Linked DNA regions of Homo sapiens: region 1 is reported to be linked to region 2. Evidence: microRNA targets listed by miRTarBase, many of them from high-throughput screens and not tested one by one. Region 2 holds a microRNA gene; the other region holds the end of a gene's coding sequence.
What was found. Region 2 holds the annotated microRNA hsa-miR-7856-5p (UUUUAAGGACACUGAGGGAUC, at 1,662-1,682, shown strand). A microRNA usually pairs through its seed, bases 2 to 8, with sites in the 3' UTR of a target mRNA and lowers its output. Matches are read on the target gene's strand: a 7mer-m8 pairs with bases 2 to 8, a 7mer-A1 pairs with bases 2 to 7 and ends in A, and an 8mer does both.

Region 1 (3,000 bases), not on the chromosome of region 2:
GCAGGAAAGACAACAAATACTACATCCCGGGGGCCCTGTACGGCAAGGCCAGCTATCCGCCGTATGCAGGCGGCGGTGGCTTCCTCATGGCCGGCAGCCTGGCCCGGCGCCTGCACCATGCCTGCGACACCCTGGAGCTCTACCCGATCGACGACGTCTTTCTGGGCATGTGCCTGGAGGTGCTGGGCGTGCAGCCCACGGCCCACGAGGGCTTCAAGACTTTCGGCATCTCCCGGAACCGCAACAGCCGCATGAACAAGGAGCCGTGCTTTTTCCGCGCCATGCTCGTGGTGCACAAGCTGCTGCCCCCTGAGCTGCTCGCCATGTGGGGGCTGGTGCACAGCAATCTCACCTGCTCCCGCAAGCTCCAGGTGCTCTGACCCCAGCCGGGCTACTAGGACAGGCCAGGGCACTTGCTCCTGAGCCCCCATGGTATTGGGGCTGGAGCCACAGTGCCCAGGCCTAGCCTTTGGTCCCCAAGGGGAGGTGGAGGGTTGAGGCCTACGTGCCACTGGGTGTGGTGGGGTGCAGGTAGCCAGAAAGGGACCTCCCTGTGTGGATAATTCTAGGAAACTGAGGCCCAGGAACGGTTGGAGCTGCCCAGTCTGGAGGCCCTCTCTGAGGAGCGAGGCGCCAGGCCCTGGCAGCCCTCCTGACCTGGGTCCGTTGCTGGCCCCCTCAGATGTGGTGGGAGGTCCTGGTGACCTCTGGAGGAACGCTGTGCTCAGGTACCTGGGCTAGGCCTGGCCTGATGGGTCTGTGGCCGCCCCTCGTCTTCACAGGGAAGAGTCTTCTGTGAAATGCCTCAGTCTCCCCAGAGGCCGGGCGGCCCTGGCAGGAGAAACTCAACCCTGTGCGGGCTCACAGGCACCCCCCAGTCCACACCCTGGTCTCCTGGGAGAGAGGGCCCAGCCGGCTCTCCGCAGCCCCAGGCCTGCCTGGAGACGGGCCGCCTCTGCCACAGGGCCTCCACTCCTGGCTGTGTCCTGTAAGGTCTGGAAGGGCGACCGCTCTGACTACCTCAGCGCCCCTCAGAATCTCCCTGGGGCTGCAGCCCTACCCCACCCCGACACAGGGCAGAAGAGCAGCGCTCCTGGCCCCCCGAAGTCCCAGAGCTGCTGACCCCCACCCCAGGCAAGTCTCTCCCGCAGCCCCCACACCCCCAGGCCTGGCTCCCTGGCTGGAAAGCAGCCGGTTTGGCCCTGGAAGTGGACATTCCTCTATTACTGTGAAGTTTTATTTATGAAGAATTTGGAGGGAGAAGGCTCCAGGCTTCAGGAGGGGGTGGTGTCCTCCCTGGCCCTCCTCCCTTCCCTCCCCTCATTCCAGCTGCCTGCCCTCAGCACCCCCAGGCCCCTCACAGCCCAGCCCCCTCCAGAGCCCTGCCCCACCGCACCCTGCTTCTCCAGGGCCTAGCAGACCAGCATCTGCCCCGGTGAAGGGATGGATCAGCTGTGGGGGTGGGTGCAGAAGGTTGCCACCTCCTACCTCAGCGGGAGTCACCTAGGAAAGATGGAGGGATTGACACTATTTTCTCAATAAAATGGGACTTTTTTTTTTTTTTTTTTTTTTTTTTGGTGTGAAACTTCCTGTTCCCAGCTGCATCAGAGAGCCTGTCTGGGGCCAAGGTTGCCAGAGATTTCTGAAGACACAGCTTGTTCCTTGTTCTTGGCTGGTGGGTGCACAAGGACTTCTGGAAGGGATTTAGACGGGGCTGAGTGCTAGGATTAAAGTGGGGATGGGAGTACGGCAACAGAAAAACCTGGGAGCTAGCAATGCACCCAGCCCTTGACTGTGCCCTGGTGGACAGCCGAGCTGTGGCTCTAGCGTGAGCCAGTGCCTTCCTGTCCCTGCCAAGGGTGAGGCCAGAGTTGGCCCCGAGGCTAATGTTTCAGTGGGTGAGATTAGGTCGGCCGTACAGAGGCCGGTGGGCTCCCTGACATCCCTTCCAGGCAACCTGAAAGCACTGAAATAGCTTATGGCCCTGTGCCAGGGACCTTGGCCCAAGCTGCTGACCTCCAGGGTGGGGAGGGAGCTACCCCCAGGAGAAGAGTCACTCAGACAGCAGTATGAGCAAGCCAGCCAGCAGCTCCGTGCCTGCACCCAGCTCAGGGGAATCCCAGGGGGTTCAGATGCCCAGGAAGGAAAAGGGGACAGCGCTACTGCTATGGAATGAGACCACCACTTCTCCTGTTGTCCTTCCCAGCTTCTCCCCAACCTCCCCTTTTCCCTAGTTTATAAGACAGGAGAAAAGGGAGAAAGCAAAAAGCTGGAAAGAAACAGAAGTAAGATAAATAGCTAGACGACCTTGGCGCCACCACCTGGCCCTGGTGGTTAAAATGATAATAATATTAACCCCTGACCAAAACGACTGGTGTTATCTGTAAATCCCAGACATTGTGTGAGAAAGCACCGTAAAACTTTTTGTCCTATTAGCTGATGTGTGTAGCCCCCAGTCACGTTCCTCACGCTTACTTGATCTATTATGACCCTTTCACGTGGACCCCTTAGAGTTGTAAGCTCTTAAAAGGGCTAGGAATTTCTTTTTCGGGGAGCTCGGCTCTTAAGACGCGAGTCTGCCGACGCTCCCGGCCGAATAAAAACCTCTTCCTTCTTTAATCCGGTGTCTGAGGAGTTTTGTCTGGGACTCATCCTGCTACATTTCTTGGTTCCCTGACCGGGAAGCGAGGTAATTGACGGACGGTCGAGGCGGCCCCTTAGGCGGCTTAGGCCTGCCCTGTGGAGCATCCCTGCGGGGGACTGTGGCCAGCTTGAGCTACGCAGATCCTGAGAGCACTCCCGGGTAGGCAATGCTCTTGACGGGTGGAACACCTCGTCAGAGCAGTGTGTGGCAGGCCCCCGTGGAGGATCAGCACAGTGGCTGAAGGAACGGGCACTTGGAGCCCGGACATCTGAAACTTGGTAAGACTGGTCTTTGGAACTTGCCCACTCCATTTGAGTGGAAGCATGTCCTGATCACCCACGGTGTGCCTGTACCGG
Region 2 (4,345 bases):
TCAGGGTCTTCCAGCTGGTTATTTGGGTTTAATCCCTCAGCAGGAATACTGTGGTTGAGTGACCATATTCTGGGTGCAGGGCCTAGAATTTTTTTTTTTTTTTTTAGCAGATTTTGATTTGGTGGGAAAAATAATTTAAATGGAAGCTAGTTTGGACCAGAGACTGATTCTTTGAAGTGACATTGATCTGCAAATGAAAATCTTTGTAGTCTTCAAAGCTCAAGTGGAGAGTTTAGAAGTATTGATGAGAGAAGACAGGTAAATCAGACAAAGATTGTGGGTTAGAGTAGAGCACTGAGTGATTCCATATTTAAAGAAGTAATAACATTAGATGAACCAGTCAAGGATATTGATAGGAAAATAATGACTTGTTTAAAATGAAATTTTAAATTTTAGATTTTTATCTCATGTTATGATTCTAAAAATAATATGTTTCTCTAATACTTTATTTTCAGGTACAAAAGTTGCAAGAAGCAGCTGAAATAGTAAAAAGCAGATGTGAAAATTTGCTACATAAAAATAACCAAATAACAAAAACCAAAAATAAAAATGTAGAGAAGGTACGTTTGGAATTTCAAATAAATAATATTTTATATATTTTTTACTTTATGAATAGTACACAAATTCATTCATTTTGGTCATTTTCTCTAGTTCATACTTAGGAAAGGGCTAGTCTTAGCCTCTGTAAGAGTTTGTTTTCCAAGGAAATAATGTTTCTTCCAGGCTGGAAATGTTGTTTGTTTATGTGAATGTTTTTTCACTTTTTTGTTAATATTTGGAAAATAGCATAAATGTTTAATTTTTCTGATGCAAGAGCAGACTTTAAATAGCTCAAAAAATGGTTATCAATCATAAGTATACAAACCTAAGTATCTCTCATTTTTAATCTCACCCTTTTTTTCTGGTTATAAATGTTTTACGTCTACAAAAGCAAAGCCAATATCTGCTAAATGCATTTTTGAAGAAAAATAATATCTTTTAAAAAACGATCATTTCCTTTTATTTGTTCTATTGCAACAGAATGAAGGGAAGGCCAGTGTTGGCGAGTTATGATGTTTTTGTGAATATTTTAAAATTTTTAAATGAAACCGCATCTCTGTTTGGTTTTTTGTGTTGTTTTGGTAAAGAAGCAGTGAAAGTTGTAGGATGCTGACTCCTGGCAGCAGAGGTCATGCGATGTTAGTGGTCGCTTCCATCTGAATCTAATAAGGTTACTCTCTCTGGGTTGCTCCCTATCTTAGGATTGAGAAGTCAGAGCAAGGCAATAATGTGAAGAAGAGGTCAGCCAGAGCAAGCGTCCTCCAGTTATACAGACATAAAGATAGCTCACTGAATGCACAACTTACTGCTTTCATGGAATTACTTTTCACCTATTTTTAGCAGGCCAGCGAATAAACCATTTCATGTCTTTTGGTCTCATTTTCTCATGAAACATACCAGTGCAAATGTCTCCTTTTCTGCTAGGCAGCACTGTAAATAAAAGCATATTTTACAATCCTGTTCAAATGACGGAAAGGGTTGGAGCCTGTCTTTTTCAGATACTGTGAGGTCACAATGTTTTCTAACTAGTATTTAACAAGACAACTATTTTTTTAATGAAATTTTTCTTTTTCTTACTTCACTGTTTTAAGTCTCCTGGTTTTCTCATGGCCTCTAAGATGTTTTAAGGACACTGAGGGATCCTTTGTTCTGGATCCCTCAGTGTCCTTAAAACAGACATTTTTCAGTCTGTTTTTTTTTTTTCCTGTTTTACTTTATATACCATCAGAATATGGATCATGTGTATCCTGTTAGTAGCCACATAGCCTTCTCCTAGCTCAATGCCTAGCACGTAGTAAGCACTCAATATTTTTTTAATTAATGAAATTTTTTTTAAAGGAGCAGTCCAAGGATGGCGACAAGTCTTTTTTCTTTTACTTTCAAGACAGTTTTAGGAAGCATTCCCTGTCTGTCTTCCAAATATAATCTGGATTTTAATTTTGCAAAAAAAAAAAAATACTGCATTATCTTTCCTGATCAAGAATGCCAGATACTACACAGAAACTATTAGGTGTTCCTGTCTCAGGGAAAGAGTCTGGCTATTTTTTGTAATTAGCAGTGCAAACATTTCTTAAGGTTGCTGCTTTTCACATCTCCACGAAAGTGCTGCAGCGAGGAACTGCAGTAGCCAAAACAGATTAATGTAGATGAAATTAGAGAGATTTGTTGATAGTAACATTAATGGCCAAATTAAAGGCAAGTGAGAACTGATGATACTAGCAATTTTTAAATAATATACAGTAAACCCTATCAGTTTTGGCTAAGATGAGTGAAGCAAGCTGCTCTAATTTAAGTAAGTATCTGAGTTATAAGATTGAATGACTAAAAGTGACAATTCCTTTAGAACCTATAGCTGGGCAGTAGACAATTACGGCTTTATTAGTAATGGTTATTAGTGATAATCTATGCTTGAATATAATGTCAGGATTTTAAAAATTTGCTCTTAAAAATTAGTTAAACATCCACCCTGTCAGCTAATTTACCCTATTTATGTGCTCAACAAACTTTTTGAAAACTAAAGTCTACCCCACTTTTTAGTTATACATTCTTATTTAACAGAGTTTAATATTTATTCAGTTGTGTTCTTATTTAAAGCCATTATACCTAAAATACTTACGTTATAAGCATATCTAGTATTTAAGATAATAAAAATATTAATGCTGAATGTGTGATCTTGCACTTATTTCCCTACTGCCACAACTCAGATGAGAGGCCAGATGGAGTCTCATCTGAAGGAGTTAGAGCGTGTCTGCGATTCCTTGACGGCGGCGGAACGGAGGCTTCACGAGTGTCAGGAGAGTCTGCAGTGCTGCAAGGGGAAGTGTGCAGACCAGGAACACACCATTAGGGAGCTTCAGGGCCAGGTGTCCAGCCGTCCTTCTGAGTTTTGCTAGATGCGTTAAAAGAATGCTTTGGAATGATTTCACCAGTTGAGGGCACTCATGTCAGGGCTTGATTTTTAAATTCCCATCTACTTAGTTCGTAAAACATCATTTTCATGCAGATACTATAATACAGTTTTGCAAGCTATTCTTTTAGTATTTTATGGTGAAAAATTGGTAATTAAAATTCTTATTTTAGTTTATTCATGCAAATCTATAGACATTTGAAGACATGGTAATAGAATGAGAGAAGGAGCAAAGTTATACTTACATATATGTTCCTTGATGTAAGGATAAGGTAAATTATTGAAACTTACATTACAAAAATTGAATTTATTTTAATTAGAATTGTACGTCAAGTTTTTTGGGATATTTTTCAGTCTGTTTCTTTTTCCTGTTTTACTTTTTATACCATCAGAATATGGATCATGTGTATCCTGTTAGTAGCCACATAGCCTTCTCCTAGCTCAATGCCTAGCACATAGTAAGCACTCAATATTTTTTTAATTAATGAAATTTTTTTTAAAGGAGCAGTCCAAAGATGGTGACAAGTCTTTTTTCTTTTACTTTCAAGGCAGTTTTAGGAAGCATTCCCTGTCTATCTTCCAAATATGATCTGGATTTTAATTTTGCAAAAAAAAATACTGCATTTTCTCACTTAAAAAGTAGGAGCTAAATGATGAGAACACGTGGACACATGGAGAAGAACAACACACAGTGGGGCCTTTCAGAGGGTGGAGAGTGGGAAGAGGGAGAGGATCAGAAAAAATAACTAACAGGTACTAGGCTTAATACTTGATTGATGAAATAATCTGTACAACAAACCCCCATGACACAAGCTGACCTGTGTAACAAACCTGCATTTGTACCCCTGAACTTAAAAGTTAGATAAAAATATGCAGACAAAATTTTAGTTTAAATTCCTGAGAAGAGATTTTTCTAGTAAAATGTCAAACGACATAGATTAGCCTAAATTACTAATTGAAATTATGAGAAAAAAATTTTTTCCTTGAATCAAAGCTTCTTACATTATTTAGAGCAGATTTTGAAGCAGTGGGAAGAATATTCTGTCTTGGCATGGGTGAGTGTGTCTTTGGTTGATTTGTTCACTTTGCTTCTCAAAAAAATATGTATTTTATTTACAGTTTCGACTTCACAGATACTCAATTATTAATCAGTATTTTTAGGTGAAACAGAAAACCATAAGAGAAACCCTAGGTATCCAAAAATAGGAGATTAATACTGCTTAAAATTTTCCTATTTCAACTTAACAAAATAAATATCTTTCTTCAATAAGGTGTTGTTCAAAGTGTTTTAATAGCCATCATCCTGAATTTTTTTTAGTTGGTTATTTTCCAATACAGGCAACATAACTTCTTTAAATTTAACCAGGAATTTAAAACTTCCATTTTAACAATATAACA

Region 1: the mRNA of B3GNT7 is a reported target of hsa-miR-7856-5p. Seed matches in the 3' UTR shown: 7mer-A1 at 2,523-2,529.

The regions. Positions count from the first base shown.
Region 1 is chr2:231,398,546-231,401,545 of GRCh38, forward strand. It overlaps B3GNT7 (UDP-GlcNAc:betaGal beta-1,3-N-acetylglucosaminyltransferase 7), which reads left to right. Exons shown (of 2, transcript NM_145236.3): 2 at 1-2,619. The coding sequence ends at 380. Among named protein-coding and RNA genes, the nearest start is that of B3GNT7, 4.3 kb to the left of the region's middle. RefSeq lists enhancers at 17-564, 565-1,110, 2,752-3,000.
Region 2 is chr1:86,355,002-86,359,346 of GRCh38, reverse strand. MIR7856 (microRNA 7856) reads left to right here and starts at 1,660; the gene lies at 1,660-1,715. It overlaps ODF2L (outer dense fiber of sperm tails 2 like), which reads left to right. Exons shown (of 17, transcript NM_001366781.1): 12 at 456-560; 13 at 2,745-2,903.